Linked DNA regions of Homo sapiens: region 1 is linked to region 2. A link means that fine-mapping ties the variant in region 2 to the expression of a gene that starts in the linked region. Tissue or cell type: transverse colon. Region 2 holds a variant in brackets; the other region holds the start of a gene. All regions are shown on one strand. Distances are between the middles of the regions.

What was found. PIP is the estimated chance that this variant, and not a neighbour inherited with it, causes the effect.
Region 1: it holds the start of PLK2, and the variant in region 2 is fine-mapped to the expression of PLK2 in transverse colon (GTEx, PIP 0.93).

What each region holds. Positions count from the first base shown.
Region 1 is chr5:58,456,601-58,464,748 of GRCh38, forward strand. PLK2 (polo like kinase 2) reads right to left here and starts at 3,486. Exons shown (of 14, transcript NM_006622.4): 1 at 3,090-3,486; 2 at 2,385-2,492; 3 at 2,125-2,241; 4 at 1,799-1,928; 5 at 1,484-1,571; 6 at 888-983; 7 at 581-779; 8 at 345-492. The coding sequence starts at 3,359. RefSeq lists an enhancer at 1-830 and silencers at 1,482-1,776, 3,804-3,983.
Region 2 is chr5:59,215,417-59,223,416 of GRCh38, forward strand. It overlaps PDE4D (phosphodiesterase 4D), which reads right to left. Exons shown (of 15, transcript NM_001104631.2): 2 at 361-552. Among named protein-coding and RNA genes, the nearest start is that of PDE4D-AS1, 180 kb to the left of the region's middle. The variant TA/T (reference allele first, on the strand shown) is at 4,815.

The DNA of each region.
Region 1 (8,148 bases), 760 kb before region 2:
GAAACAGAATTACAAACATTAGTCTATCTTAACAAGGTAGGAACAGGGTTAGTCATATTTTCTCCTTCTTGCATTATTGACCAACTTATGAGCATCCTGGGCAAAAATAGCATTTTACCTTTGCCTTTAGCTGCAGCTACCCCCAAAAGCCCTCTTTAGTGTTTGCAAAATAAAAAGCTATCAATCACAATTCAAGGTATGGATTTATTATGCTATAAATATCAACATTTAAGAATACGCAAATATGGCCAAGTTATGCTAATATAAAATTCTCTTTTAACTAATTTACCAAATTTAAATATAATATTGGGTACGAAAAAGGAAAAGAAGTCTTGTTAACTTACTATGTGTGTCAATATATCTTGCTTTGTCTTTTTTGCCACCAAAAAGAGCAGCAGCTGCTTTCTTAAAGAAATTCTTAGCTGGGCTTGATAAGTGGAAATCTGGAACTGTATGACAACAGCTAGAAGACAGTCTGTCCGGAGTGAAGCCCTGTGGAATATTAGAAAAAGCCTTCAGTAACCTGTCAGGTAACTGGGATCAATACCAGGTAATTAAAAAAAAAAGATAGTGCACCAACCTGCAAAAAAAAGTCATGTCGAATGATGTCATCCAAACTGGGACGATCCTCTGGGTTTTTGGACAACATACTAGCAATTAAGTGCTTGGCAGGAGCCAGCAATGAGGACGGCATTGTATACCTTGCTTCCCTTATGCACCTATAAGTTTCTTTGAGATTTGTAGTTTCAAATGGGGGCCTCCCTAGTAACATTGTATACCTGTGTGCAAAGAAACACATCTTTAGCAATGGTCATAAAGCAACTCTTTTCAAGTGTTAAAATCTAAATCCGAATTTGCTTTTTAATTATTCTGCTGCATTTACTTACATTACACAGCCCAGGGCCCAAATGTCTGATTCACAGCCATGTCCTTGTTTGTTGAGGACTTCAGGAGAGAGATAATTTGGGGTACCACATATCGTTCTGGAAAGACAAAATATTGAGATCGTGTTAGGAACTATTCCACTACTTAAACTTGGTTCTCTTGACATGACTTGATGGGAGACAAAATCTTAAACAAAATCTTAAAATCTATACTGAATTTCTATTTGGAAACATTTGACTTTTGGCATCTGAAAATTCAATTGAGATCTGACCAAATGAGTTTTGGTAATTTTTAAAAATGCACACACGTTGTTTTAGCCCACATGCAAAGTGTTGTTAACCAACTAAAGCCAGGGACGTCGTGGCATTTTATACATTTTAAGCCAAGAAAAGACTTCATTGACTGCTTTCATAATCAATTTAGAGGCACAGGGTGCTCTGTCTAGTCCATAGTGGGCATTTAATAAGTATTTCTTTAAATTAACATTGCTATGATTTATAGATTTTATTACCGGACCTCTGAAACATTAAATGCAAAATAATGAAGGCATATTTGGTCTCCACAAAAGTCTACTAGGATGCATCTTTCTGACTCTTACCTCCTTCTGTGTTCCAAGGGTTCTAGCCTGGCTGCCAGACCGAAGTCCCCAACTTTTAGTTCCATGGCTTCATTAATAAAAAAGTTCCCTAGACGATAAACAAAACAAAATGTGAATCCCTTTGAAAATGCGTTCTAACCAAGTACACACACATCCACTTTGGAGCCAGGCAGCCAATTGTTATATGAAAGTCGCCCATTCAAAAGCAAGATTGCAGACACGAGATCCCAATTAAGAACATTAATATGTAAAAAAAAACAGAGAGAGAAAAAAGAACTCTAACACAAAACTCAGCTTTTGGCGTCAATGACTTACCTAGTTTGAGATCTCTGTGCAAGATTTCTTGTTCATGAAGGTATTTCAGTCCAGACACAATCTGCCTGAGGTAGTATCGAACTTCTGGCTCTGTCAACACCTTTCTTGCTTTCAAAATATGAGCCATTGACTAAGAAGAGGAGAAGGAAAAAAGAGAATCTGTCAAAACAGTTATCAAAATCACTGGTTTCCCTTTGCAGGATGAGCAATGAAAGTTAACTTTGCAGTGTAAGTGCTGCCACAGCTAAAATCCCAGATAAAATACTCTTTGAATACCATGTTAATTCGGGGTAAGCAAATGTTCTCAAATAGGAGTTGACACTTACCCTTCTACTGCAGTATTCCAAGAGAATGTAAATGTTTTCTTTGTCCTCGAAGTAGTGGTAAAACTGCACTACATGCTTATGATGAAGAATTCTGTGAAGCTCTATTTCTTTGTCAATCTAAATGAAAAAGCAAGGTAAGGCTTATTAGCTTCCAGTCACCTCGGAAAAGCCAGTGATTACACATGCAGAAGACATTTTCCTAACAGGGAAGGGCCATCCTTGCACACAAAGAAAATACTTTACTCAAGAGTCATACGCACCTTTTCCCTTTGATGAGGTTTAGCTACTCTGCTGTGAGGAATAATTTTTGCGGCGTAGACTTTGTTATTTGTCAAATCTGTCATCTCGTAACATTTTGCAAAGCCACCCTGAAAGGAAACAAAGCCGAGACGGAATTGAGGATGGCACAAAAATGGACGGCAGATATTTTAAATAAATAAATAAATGGGAAGAAAGAAAAGCAAAAAAAAAAAAATTGAGGAATGGAGGAGGGTGGACAGAGGGAGGCATTCGACTTCGTTAAAGCTCCCTCATGAAGAGAAATGCATTGCTGGAAACAGCAAGTTCAAACAGTTTCTCTTCTTCTTTTATAAAGGGGAGCTTTATGGAGGGAGTTGGAACGGGGAGACATGAAAAATAATCTCTGATGAGACTTGTCAGGAAAATTCCCTGGGAGCAGATAGAGGGAGAGAGGTCTGATGTAGAAAGCCCTCGCTTCCAGACTCAAGATGCATTTCTCTGGGCTGCGGGAGACACACAGTTCTGAGGCTAAGAATGCAAAGCCGATCCCCAGCGCTGCCGGCGCACAAAAGCCAGAGGGCAGGTGAGGAGCCCACCTCGCGCTGGGATCGGACCCCCGAAAAACCCGGAAGCGGCGGGCGAGGGACCCCGCGGGCTTGCCCGGCTTGGGGTCGCCCGGACAGACCTCCCGCCCGCCCGGCAGCCCGGCGCCCTCCGCTTGTCACCTTTCCCAGCACTTTGCCCCGGCAGTAGCGCTTCCCAGTCGTGGGGTCGACGATAATCCGCGAGATCTCCGGCCCCGAGTGCGAATGGTGGTGATGGTGGTGAGGGGCCGCCGGGGGCACTTGCGCCTGGGACTGAGGTGGCTGCGATTCCTCGGGGGGCTGCGGCGGCCGCTTCTTCTTCGAGTCCGCTCCGCAACCCTTGCCCAGCGCCTGCTCGCACATTTTGGTGCTGGCGGCTGGCTGGTAGGTGATAGTCCGCAAAAGCTCCATGGTCGCCTTGCCGCCCCGCACTGCCCGCTGCCACCCCCTAGGCGCGGTCACACGTCCGAGCCGGCCGTGGTCCTCGCACCCTTGCCTCTGGTGCCGACTAGCACCCAACACCCCGGTCCACTTGTGCGAGTGAGAGCGCTCGGCGAAGTCTTATATACGGGGAGGCGGGAAGGGGGCGGAGACTCGATACGCGACATCACGTCACGGCCTATGCCCCGCCCCACGGCCGGCCGAGCGCGCGTGGCCGGGAAGCAAGTCTTGTCCCGCCACCCGGGTCTCGCTTCCCAGCGGAGCCGCGCGCCTCAAACGCCGGCCGCCGAGATCTCTTGCGGCCGCGGGAAGGCCTTCAGAGCCGTCCGTGGGCCCCGCTGTCCCGTTCTTCGAAGGCTCCGAGCCTCAGCGTACAAAACAGAATCGCGAGGGCCGACGCCTGGCCTCACCCCCGCCCCAGCCGCCTGGTGGCAGGGCAGTGCCGTGACCCGAGCGAGTCGGGCGCGGGTGTAGACGCAGTCCCTCCCCCGCACAGCCCTTCCCGGCCGCCCGGGGCCTCCTGTGTCAAGGTATCAGGGTGCCCGGAGCCCGCCGCACGGGCAGGCGAGGCCTCCTCCGGCCGTATGACAGGGCTCGTCTGCAGCTGCCCCGCAGTGCCTGCCCGCGCTGTGACGAGCTCGCTGGTGTCTAGCTGGGGCAGTGCCGAGAGGCCGTGGGGGTGAAAGGCCGGGATTCGTGGAGCCGGGCATTCGAGCCCATCGCGCTAGGGCAGACACGGGCCCGCAGCCGGGATCCCGGGCCGATCGGCCAACCGTGCCAGGATCCCACTCGAGGCCCGTCTGGCCCCCGCCCATGCCCCTAGAGCGAGCCTCTGTCTGAGGTCGGCCCCTGAACCTTGCAGAGCGAGGTCGGCGTCCTGGCAAGGCGTCCTCCGCCCGTAGCCCGAAGATTGGAAAGCAAGGGCGCCATCTTGTGGAATGTTCCGGAATGCCGTTAGGTGTCGAAGTGGGCAGCGGTTGACAACCGTGGGCCTTTGACAGTTACTAGTACTAAACATCGATGCCGATTGTGAGTTTCCAATCAGAGTCATCTATGACTTCTTCCGAATGCATCTGTTGAGATGGCTCATGAGCTGCCCTGGTTCCTGGAGAGTCAATCTGAGACTTTCTGGGGTAGGGAGATTGGTAGGATGAAGAGAGGAGCGTAGGCCAGTGAGTGCAAACACAGCTTAGTTTCCCATTTCCAGATTTTGCTGTGCAGTTTGACTAATCTAGGAACACGTTTTTTTGTTTGTTTTTCTTGTTCTAATTACGATAGAGTAACATTTATTGAGGACTGTGCAGTATTTTTAAATGCCTTATTTCATCCTACAACAATTCTGAGAGAAATATTGTAAGGAAGGAAAAATAATTTTCCACCTTTCAAAGTTTTGGCCTGGGTCGCTGTAACCAGACAGATTAACAAGAAAACAAAGAAGCTTATTAACATATACGTCTCATATATACATGGGAGATAACCAGGAAAATTAGAGATGGTTTAAAATCGGGCTTAAATACTATCTTTAGCTAAACCAAAAGAAAAGAGTGGGGCAGGCAAGTTAAGGAATCATGACCAGGAAATGTACGGTAAACAGGAGTGGGGTTTCTTATTTCTTCATTGATAAGTTTTTCATGATTTAGAGTCATTCTTCCTGGTACAGAGGAGACACTTTTACAAATGGAGTTTTGTGGGGTTTTTTTGTTTTTTGTTTTTGTTGTTTTTTTTTTTAGTGAATGTACGTTTCCCTTACGAAAGGGTAATATGCCATTTTTAGAGCATTTCCTGGGTCTGCTGGTTCTCAAAATAATTATCTTAAAATAATCTTTATCCCAGGGCCATATTTGGGGTGGCATATTCTCATCTCCTACATTATTATTCCCATTTTATAGATGAGGCTTGGAGAACTTAGGTAATTATTGTATATTTTTACTAGATCATCGAGGTTAGGTTAATTAGCAGCACACTTGAATCTTTTTACCTATGTTAACAGGATATGGTAAATAGTTTTTTGAAGCTAAATTCCAGAGAAATTTAGAATACCAGATTATTGAATCCCTGGAAGGTACATACAAAAAGTTGCTGCAGTCCACTGTCAAATTTAGGTATGTGTGGTATCAACATTAATCGAACATTTACAAAAATACTGTGTCTCAAATACTTCCAGCATAATGTGGAAAAGAGGCTTATTGCCATTAGAGAGGAGAAAGGGAAAGGCTTTGCCATTAGCGAGGAGAAAGGGAAAGTCTTTGCTGTCACTTCCGTTTTTGATTCTTTAAAGAGTGCAGGGCAAGTCCAGGCATGTTTCTCATAAGTGACAATAGACTTTAACCCCAAGATTGTCAGGGATGGAATAAGGGGTGGGGCTTAGGGGTGGAAATTCAGAATTACGTAATTATCCTCTTTATTCATAAGCCCAGGGGTGACCTTTGCTTCCCAGATTTGTGCAAACCTACTCTCTAAGATGTAGAAGGCTTGCAGGTTTAGAAAATATTACTAGAATTTATCAAAGCTAGTTTACACACCATGTCTTTATGGTTGATAATAAACTGTATATGTATACATATGTGTGTATGTGTATGTGTATTCATTTGTGGCCTAAGATAAAAAACTGAAGAATAGATTGTCATGATTTTTTTTTAAATGTCAATTTCTTCTTTGATTAGCATACACTATGGTATGTATCTTTACCAAATGGACTTCAGTATTTGATAAACTGTTGAACATTCCATGTGAAATTCAGGTCTGTCTGCCACAACATGGAGGCATTTAATAAAATATTAACGCTGTGTAAATCTTATGTTGTCTTCTTTCCGACTGAGAACATGATTTTTTTGGGGTTGTGGTGCCATCATGTGGACAGAACCAAAATTGTAGTCTATAGAACAAAAAAGGAAATAAATGCGCTTTCTATTAAGTAGACTAATTACTAAATATCATGGAGTCAATTTGGTAACCAGTAGGAAGGAAAAAATGGATCCATGCTTCATATCTGGCTTATTTTCAAGCAAATGAAAGTTTGAAATACGTGAAATTTTAAGACAATATGAAAGAATTCTTTCATAGCCTGAATGTGGTAGAACTTTCAACTATTTACAAAATCTAGAATCCCTAAAAAAAAAAAAAAAGCAAGATTCATTAATGTAACTATATAGAAACAAAACCCTTTCATTGATTTAAAATAACAAAACACCACAAATAAAGTCAAAGGATAAATAACACTGGAAAAATTATTTTCAACTCATCACAGAGAAAGAGCTTATCTTCCTGTTATATAAAAACTCCTACAATTGGATAAAATACCAATTATCCAACAGAAAACAAATGGTTCTTACATTTGCTCAATTTCACTCTTCAGAAGAGAAATTGAAATGAAAGATATACTGAGGCACCCTTTCCTACAAAATTGGCAAAACCCTCAAAAGTTGCCGTGAACATGCTCAACTGCTGAAGTGTTGAGGAAGCAGCACTCCATATATTGCTGTTGGGAATGGAAATTGATATAATTTCAGTGAAAAGTAATTTGGCCAAATCTATCAAATTTAGAAATGAATGTATTCTCTTACTTAGGAATTTATCCTATGGATATAATCTCATATATAAAATGATGCATGACACATCAACAAATGATAAAAACCCTGGCCAAATTAAGCCCAATTCTTACATTTGTCAATAAGTTTTTATTTAAAAGAACCGTGCCCATTTGCCGGGATCTAATTAAACTAAAGAGCTTCTGCACAGCAAAAGAAACTATCGTCAGAGTGAACAGGCAGCCTACAGAATGGGAGAAAATTTTTGCAATCTATCCATCTTACAAAGGGCTAATATCCATCATCTACAAAGAACTTAAACAAATTTACAAGAAAAAAAACAACCCCATCAGAAAGTGGGCAAATGATATGAACAGACACTTCTCAAAAGAAAACATTTATGCTATCAACAAACATGAAGAAAAGCTCATCATCACTGGTCATTAGAGAAATGCAAATCAAAACCACAGTGAGATACATCTCACGCCAGTTAAAATGGCGATCATTGAGAAGTCAGGAAACAACGAATGCTGGAGAGGATGTGGAGAAATAGGAACGCTTTTACATTGTTGGTGGGAGTGTAAATTAGTTCAATTGTGGAAGACAGTGTGGCCATTCCTCAAGGATCTAGAACCAGAAATACCATTTGACCCAGCAATTCCATTACTGAGTGTATACCCAAAGGATTATAAATCATTCTACTATAATGACACATGCACATGTATGTTTATTGCAGCACTGTTCACAGTAGCAAAGACTTGGAGCTGACCCAAATGCCCATGAATGATAGATTGGATAAAGAAAATGTGGCACATATACACCATGGAATACTGTGCAGCCATAAAAAAGGATAAGTTGATGTTCTTTGCAGGGACATGGATGAAGCTGGAAACCATCATTCTCAGCAAACTAACACAGGAACAGAAAACCAAACACTGCATGTTCTCATTCATAAGTGGGCATTAAACAATGAGAACATATGGACACAAGGAGGGGAACATCACACACTGGGGCCTATCAGGAGGTGGGGGCCTAGAGGAGGGATAGCATTAGGAGAAATACCTAATGTAGATGACGGGTTGATGGATTCAGCAAACCACCAAGGCACGTGTATACCTATGTAACAAACCTGCACATTCTGCACATGTATCCCAGAACTTAAAGTATAATAAAAAAATTTTTTTTAAAAAGACTACACATTGGGTACAGTGTACACTGCTTGAGTGATGGGT
Region 2 (8,000 bases):
GAAAATATCCATGTAGTTAGGTAGCTAAAACTCAGGCTCTACATAAATATAAGCTAATGATTTAAGTGTTAGTTTCCATTAAAAATTTAATTCTCAGTTTTCCTATAAAGTATTTTCTGGGAAAATAAATACATGCGTGTGTGTGTGTGTGTGTGTGTGTGTGTGTGTGTGTTAATCAAGAGTGACAGTGCACTCAGGTTAAATCTACCATTCATTTCTAGCTTGTATAATTTTATTCATATTCTTTCTACATTGGAGGAGAGTGATACAGTTGAACAAAAGTCATTAGTTTTATTATGTCATCAGCTCTAGATATAAATTTACTCGGTTTTCTCTCTCTTTGCCTGCCCTTGTACTTACATATCACTGGCAATGGAGGAGTTCCGGGACATAGACTTTGGAGAGAGGTCATAATCGCTGTCGGATCGATACAGGAAGGACTCCCGTCGTTGACTGTGGACAAAATTTGCTTGGAGAATTAGCCCGGATCCTGGGCTGGTCATGGGATCCAAGGGACTCCGTCCCGCAGATGTGCCATTGTCCACATCAAAACTGTAAAGGAAGGAGAAGGAATTATGTTGCTGTGAACATTCACATGTTCATATTTTCAAAAAGCATTTAGCGTCAGCTGAGGAACTGACAGTGGAATTAGCAGGAATGAAAATTACAGCTAATTTCTGCCATAAAAATATGATAATATTGAAATACATAAAAGAAAAACACATTGACTTCACATTCTTGTTCTCCTGGATACTGTTGTTAACTGACCAGATACAAGATACAGGTTTTTCCAAACTCTACTTCAGTTAAAAGGGAAACACTCTGCAAAACATAATCTTCTAAGTACAAAATTCCTTTCGGAAAATAACAAATACACAGTAATTCATCAAATATTTGAATTCGATTCAACAAATACCCATTTTGTGCCTAATGCTGTTCTCCCAAACCTGGGCTTCTCCCTCCACACTCCTACCCTATAACATCCATCCAAGCATTAATTTCTATTGTACCCACTTCCTTCCATCCCTACTACCAATATTTTAAATTCAGGTCTCCATCAAATTTCACCTATATTATTATAACAACCTTTATATTAGTGTCTTGAATCCATTTTCCAGTGTCATTCTTCAGTTTAAAACCCTTCAGTAACTTACCATTGCTCTCAGGATGAAGTCAAAATTTCTTTGCCAGACTGCCAGTCTAACCATCTGCTCTCAATTGCAATTAGTTGCCCCCAGCCTCAACTTGCCATCCTCAGCTATTGGGTACTTCTTGCTCAACTCATATTGAGGCACTATCTCCTTCTCACAGGCCATCACCACCTCACCTCCTGCTCCCCTAAATAATCAAATCCCCTTTCCCCTGCCTAACTGTCACTCATCCTTGAGACTTAGCCTGCACCTGAAAGGCTACCCTGGTACATCAGAGCTTTATGAAAGGCCCTTTCTCTACGCTCCCAAGACACTTTCCCACTCCCTAATGACAGAATTTACAATGAATTGAAAATGTTTTTCACCCGGTCTCCATTCCTAGATTGTGAGCTCTCTACAAATGGAGACTCAGCGTATTCTTGGCACATTGAAAACTGTGCCCAAGTGTCTTGAGTAAATGATTAAATGAATAAAAGGCACTGTGCTCAGCAATACATATTTTAGAGCTGGGAAAAAATCTACACACACAGTTCTTAACGTCATAGTCCTTATAATCTAGATAAACTTTCCACAAAGAACCTTTCTAGTGAAACATCAACCAGTATTAAAATAAAGTCAACTTTCATGTGTTCTTAGGAGAGGAGGGTGATAGCTTATGATAGCCCAGCAGGTGTGTGGTTTTAAAGAAAAACTTGTTGAAAGAATAAATAAACATGTGAATTCAAGTTTTGCTGTCATTAATATTTTCCCCATTAGAATCTTTATTCAAACTATTAACTAGCTCATTTTAAAACATTCCTTTATTTTCTTTATCGGAGTCATTAATAAATAGAGTTATGACTCTAAGATTGGAAGATGTTTCATGGATCACTTTTGAATCTGTGATCAAATAACAGTGGCTCCGAAATAATCCATCAAATAAACAGAAGAGGGAAAACTCATTATCTTGAGCAGCTGTAAATATGTTTTTCCAACTTAAAATTTTCTTAGAATTGTGTCTCTTTATAGATATATTTATTTGGTTCAGGAAGGACAATGAGAGATTGTCAAGTCGAACAGACTCACTTTACAGACGAGGATACCAGGTCCTAGAAAAGTTAATTGACCAGTCACTGAGCTAACTGCATTGAATCATCGATTGTTCCTAAAGTCCTTCCAGCTCTACTGCATGATTATATAAACCACAAATATATGTGGCACCCAAACAGGGGACATCTGTTTCACCAGAATAGGATAGGCACATATGTATGTGAAACCTTGTCAATTCCCAGGAAGGCTGGAAGGGGAGGATGGTCTCTAATCATTCAATAGACATACATTAGGGATCTTTGGCAAACTCTCCTTGGATATGCTTAAATAGGCATTTATTAAGCACTTAATATGAGTGCATTAAGATACAAAAATAAAGGATGAATGACTAACTCAGGCTGGGATATCTGAGAAGTTTTCATGAAGAGTAGTATTTAAGAAGGTTTTTGAAGGTATTTAGTACACAACTGGAAGACATTAAAAACTTCTAAATAGTGGGGGTTTGGCAAAGTAGATTTCTCTTCTAAGAAGATAGTCATGGCAGCTTTTCAGCATGAGGAGGACCTAGTAATGTGAATGCCTGTAGAAATGTTTATGTTTATTTCCCTTTAATATCAAGATATTCTTATTGCTACACTTTAAAAAAGAAAATACCCCCTCCTTCCTGTGCATGAACAGAAATGTAAGAGATACAGAAGTGTGAGTTTTGGTTTAGTTTTTTTCAGTTCAACTGAGTAAACACCAAATTTGTATAAATCAGTAATTTTTTCTTTAATTATAATTTTTCCAATTAAATCAAGCAAGTCTTAACACTCCACTATAAGTTTTGAAACAAATATTGCTAAATACCTTAAGTCATTTAGATAGTTATGATATTTTTAAATCTTACAACTTTTAAGCCATAATATTAGCACTAAAACCAAAACATTTATTAATAGGTCAGGAAGTGCTTGATATGAGATATTCTAGGGGCTTTAATATTTTTCTTTGTATACTGTAATATAAAAATTTGTCCACTAGATGGAGATCATTTTCTTAAACAAGGAAACTATTTTCTACTGAAGGGTTAAATAACCTTAAAGGCCTAAATTATTTCTTAGGAACTCATGAAAATAACCCTTTAAATGACATCCAAAAAACAAAGTTCACAATGTATACTAAGTAATTATCAATATTGATAAAATTACATTAATCTAATATTAGTATTAGCTTTACAAACATTGAGAATGAAGATCTAAAAATAGTGACTGATATTTTATTGGACTTTTTCTTAAATGATGAGTTCATGTCCTTTGTAGGGACATGGATGAAATTGGAAATCATCATTCTCAGTAAACTATCGCAAGAACAAAAAACCAAACACCGCATATTCTCACTCATAGGTGGGAATTGAACAATGAGATCACATGGACACAGGAAGGGGAATATCACACTCTGGGGACTGTTGTGGGGTGGGGGGAGGGGGGAGGGATAGCACTGGGAGATATACCTAATGCTAGATGACGAGTTAGTGGGTGCAGTGCACCAGCATGGCACATGTATACATATGTATCTAACCTGCACAATGTGCACATGTACCCTAAAACTTAAAGTATAATTAAAAAAAAAAAAGAAAAGAAAAAAAATACTTGAGAAGACTTAATTGAATTTCCGTAACAAATCACTGAGTACTTATTGTGTTGGAGTAAAGTAACTTGAGCATCATTAATAGTCTGGGGTTTCACTCTAAATTTTGGCACCACAAGTATTCTCAGAATACGGTTTGTTCTGGGAAGTGAACCTAGGGTCTGAGTTCATTTGCATAATTTATTTCCATGATATTAAATCCTCTTATAATCAAAATTAATTATCAAGAAAAAGTAATATTACCGAGAATCTCCAGTCTGAAGTATCAGCCAATGTCAGTATTAGTGAATGACTTTATACAAAGAGAGACTTTGTATTTTGAAATAGTCATTGAATAAACTTTTACATTACATCCTATGTCCTTAGATCAGCACTTGAATAAGTACAGATATACTACACATTGTCCTTTTCTAGAAAGCACTAAAGTCTAGTTAAGGTAATAGAACATCAAGCAACCAGAGAAAATAAAAGCAGCAAAACAGGTGGCATCTGTATTAAATAGCATATAAATACTAAAACACGAAATTGTATTATATAGGCAATCAGACTATGTGATGTAGACAATGAATGTAAAGGGAATTTAAGAAGTTGCAGGATGTACACCTTTGAAGGAGAGTTAAAAAATGTCCAGCCAGAGTAGAGCTGGGGTTGGGGGTGGAGGCCATCCAGCAAAAGTGAAGCCACAAAAACAAAACCAAGAAGGAATGAATAAGGCGTGTATATAAAACAGGACATTTAGTGTCTGGCTAAATTTGAGGCTTGGTATTAAAGAATAGTGGGGACCTATAAAAATGGCAATTTTGTACAGTTCAACCTAATAGGTAGGGATGGATGTGTTTATGGAAAGCTGGGCCAAGGAGTGTCAGCAGAAGCTTGTTATAAAGACTTACGTGGAAACACACAAATCAACTTTTAACATTGAAATCTCAGGGGAGTAAGATGAGGAAGACCAGTATTTGTTAAAATAAACATGTTGCTTTTGCAACAAATAAAAGGTAGAAAACAGAG[TA/T]GAGGCTGAGCACAGTAGCTCATGCCTGTAATCCCGACACTTTAGAGGCACACGTGGGAGGATCGCTTCAGACCAGGAGTTCAAGGTTACAGTGACTGATCGTGTCACTGCACTCCAATCTAGGCGACAGAGCATGACTCTGTCTCAAAAAAAAAAAAAAAAAAAAAAAAAGAAAGACAAAAAACAGAGTTAAAAAAAAAAAGGAGAAAAATAAATGTTTTAACTACAAGAGGACCCCCAAAAAGGCTTGTTCATTAAATACTTCAAATATTAGAACTAGGGGGTTTGCCTTGAGTAGGGAGGTTAGTTGTGGATTTTAAAAGGCAGCACATTTTTACTCAGTAGGTAGTAAGTTAACTGAGAATTAGACACTTACTTAACTTTCTGAAAGTTAGCCTAATTAGTCAGTTTGGGCTGAAATTATAGATGGCTTCAAATAAGCTAGTTATCTTTGAAACATAATTTTATCAATAGTCCACATCGTGGTGTTATGAATAAAACAAGAAGGTGATGAAGGATAAGGTAGCCCTAACCTTAGATGCTGGTATCAAAATGATCAGTTGTGAATTTTCCAAAGACATTCTTTAGAAAACACTTGGATGTGGTGAATTCTCTTTTGACTCACAGCCAATTAGATGGAGCCCAAGCAAAAAACTAGAAGTTTGAAAAAGTAACTAAAGGATTGGGGAGAGTAAAAATTACCAAGTTTAATGATGATGGTGGCAATAATAATAATGTTAATAACAATAAAACTTCTGGAGCACTTTCCATGTTCCAGGCGCTGTGCTTTGCATATATTATCTCATTTAATCCTCACAATAACACTTTGAAGTAGGCACTGTATTTTCCATTCGACCATGGGGACTCTGAGGCATAGACAAGTGACTCTATGTTCAGTAGTATGCTCAAGCTCATAAGTGGGTTTTAAACTCAAGCTGTCTGATTCTAAGGCTGGGGAGAATGGACTCTGTTTACACCTCTATTATGAAGTTTCATTTAAAAAAATACAAGAATACCTTTTAGCTTCCTCACCTGCAGGGAACTTTTGAAAGTAACATTCTGATTAACTTACAGGTGACGCATGCAAAGGCTAATTCTGAGACTAAATTTTCGTATGGGGCTGGGTGTGGTGGCTCATGCCTATAATCCCAGCACTTTAGGAAGCCAAGGCTGGTGAACTGCTTGAGCCCAGGAGTTCAGGGCCAGCCTGGGCAACATGGTGAAACACCATCTTTACAAAAAATTTTAAAATTACCTGGGTGTGGTGGTGCTTATCTGTAGTCCCAGCTACCCCAGAGGTGGAGGCAGGAGGATCACCTGAACTAAGGAGGTCGAGGCTGAAGTGAGCCATGATTACGTCACTGCACTCCAGCTTGGGCGACAGAGCGAGACTCTGTCTCAAAAAAAAAAGTTTTCATATGACCCAACATTTTGGAATTTGCCAAATCCCCAGCTTTTTCCAATTCTGAACATAACAGTAGGGTGTAAAAAAGTCTTTGCTGTAACCCATTTGGCGGGTTTCTTTATAGCATTTGAGATTTCATTTGGAATTAAGGAAGGGTCAGTGGGTCTGCAAAAGGGCTTAGCAAATGGAACTAAGTGAGGTGCTTTCTTGTTCCATATGTTTGCTTCCCTTAATGCAATTTAAGAATGCACACAATTCTTAAAAGAGATAACTTTTGCCAGAAGGCAGTTTTGGAGGAGGAATGATATAGCTATATTTGGTCTCCCATGAGGGGGCAGTAACAGTAATGACCAGCTGGCCTGCTGCATTCAGAAGTGTTAAAGAATGTGTGTGGCTAGCACTACTCATGACCATTTACTCCACAGACCCATCCTTTTCTATGGAACCAGCCCCCTACAAGAAACAAAGAGAAGTCGGACAAACTGACGAATGAACTAATTACTCCCAGTTCTCCACACTGTTCCATTTCAGTGGAATTACTGGATGGTAATACAGTTCCAATCTACCTTTCATCCACGCTCTCAACTGCTCGCATACTTTGTGTCTACTGACCTTGTAATTGTTTGTCTGCTGAAGGTCATTTCTCATCTTTTTGGCCTTTTGCTAGACACTGCTTCCCTAGTTTAAACTTTTCCCAATTTATTTTTGACCATGATATGGGCCCTCTCCTGAGCCAGAGTCCTGCTACTGTGCTGAGTAAATAGCTTTCCTCATCTATCCTAGCCATCAGGACCTTATACTTAGCACTGACCCCCAGTATGAAGCCCAAAGTGGGTGGGGCAATGAGGGCCTCAGTGGAGCAGCTGCTAAGGAACCTCTATCAATAGCAGCCTCCATTACCGAAGCATCTATGAAGGCCACTCACAGGGAAGATCTTGCTGAATGTCGCTGGGAATCCTGGGAGCCATCACTGAAGCCAGGACCATCTGAAAGCTGCCTTTTTCACTACATAGTAAGAACAATGGCACATAGAAAATATTGACCTACCAAAAATGTTCCTGTTAAGATGTTTATTTAAGAGTTAGAAAACACAGGTTAAATTTGAAATCTTGGTTCAGCCACTTCCTATTTGGGTGCTCTAGGGCAAGTTGCTGTATTTTCTAGGCTTTCACTGCTGATAAAGATAATTACAATACCTAGCTCTAGGGCCATTATAAGGATTAGAAGAGAAAATGTTTGGAAAGCATTCACCACATTGCCTGGCAGCTAGTACACTCCCATTATTTAGCAGCTATTGTTTTTCATTTTTATTACTCTTTTTCTCCCAGGGAGATCTTCATCTAGGTCATTCTCTTTAACTTTATTTGAACACATGGCTTTGGGAAGAACCTAAAGGGAGAGATGAAAGAGGAAGAGAACTGAGGGCCAAATCACCTGAATCAGCCCTTGCAATCAATGAGGTGACAGATGCTGGAGCCAGATTGCTCTAAAAGTTTCAGCTGCTTTTATGTCTCCACCCAACTCCATAATTCCAGTGTGATAACATCTGGGGAGGGTGGAGACTGCTGATTTTTTTCTAGATATTACTCACTGAGGAGAAAGAATAATTTCCTACCAGGAAGTGTGGAAGGCTTGGAGGTCCCAACAACCTAGGTGGGGCTCCAGCTGAATATAATGAGCAGAAACAGTCCTTCAGACCTCAGGTCTCCAGACACAGGGTGTAGCTTGGGGACCTCAGGTCACAATTATACTGATGTTTATATTCCTGTACTCCACTCTC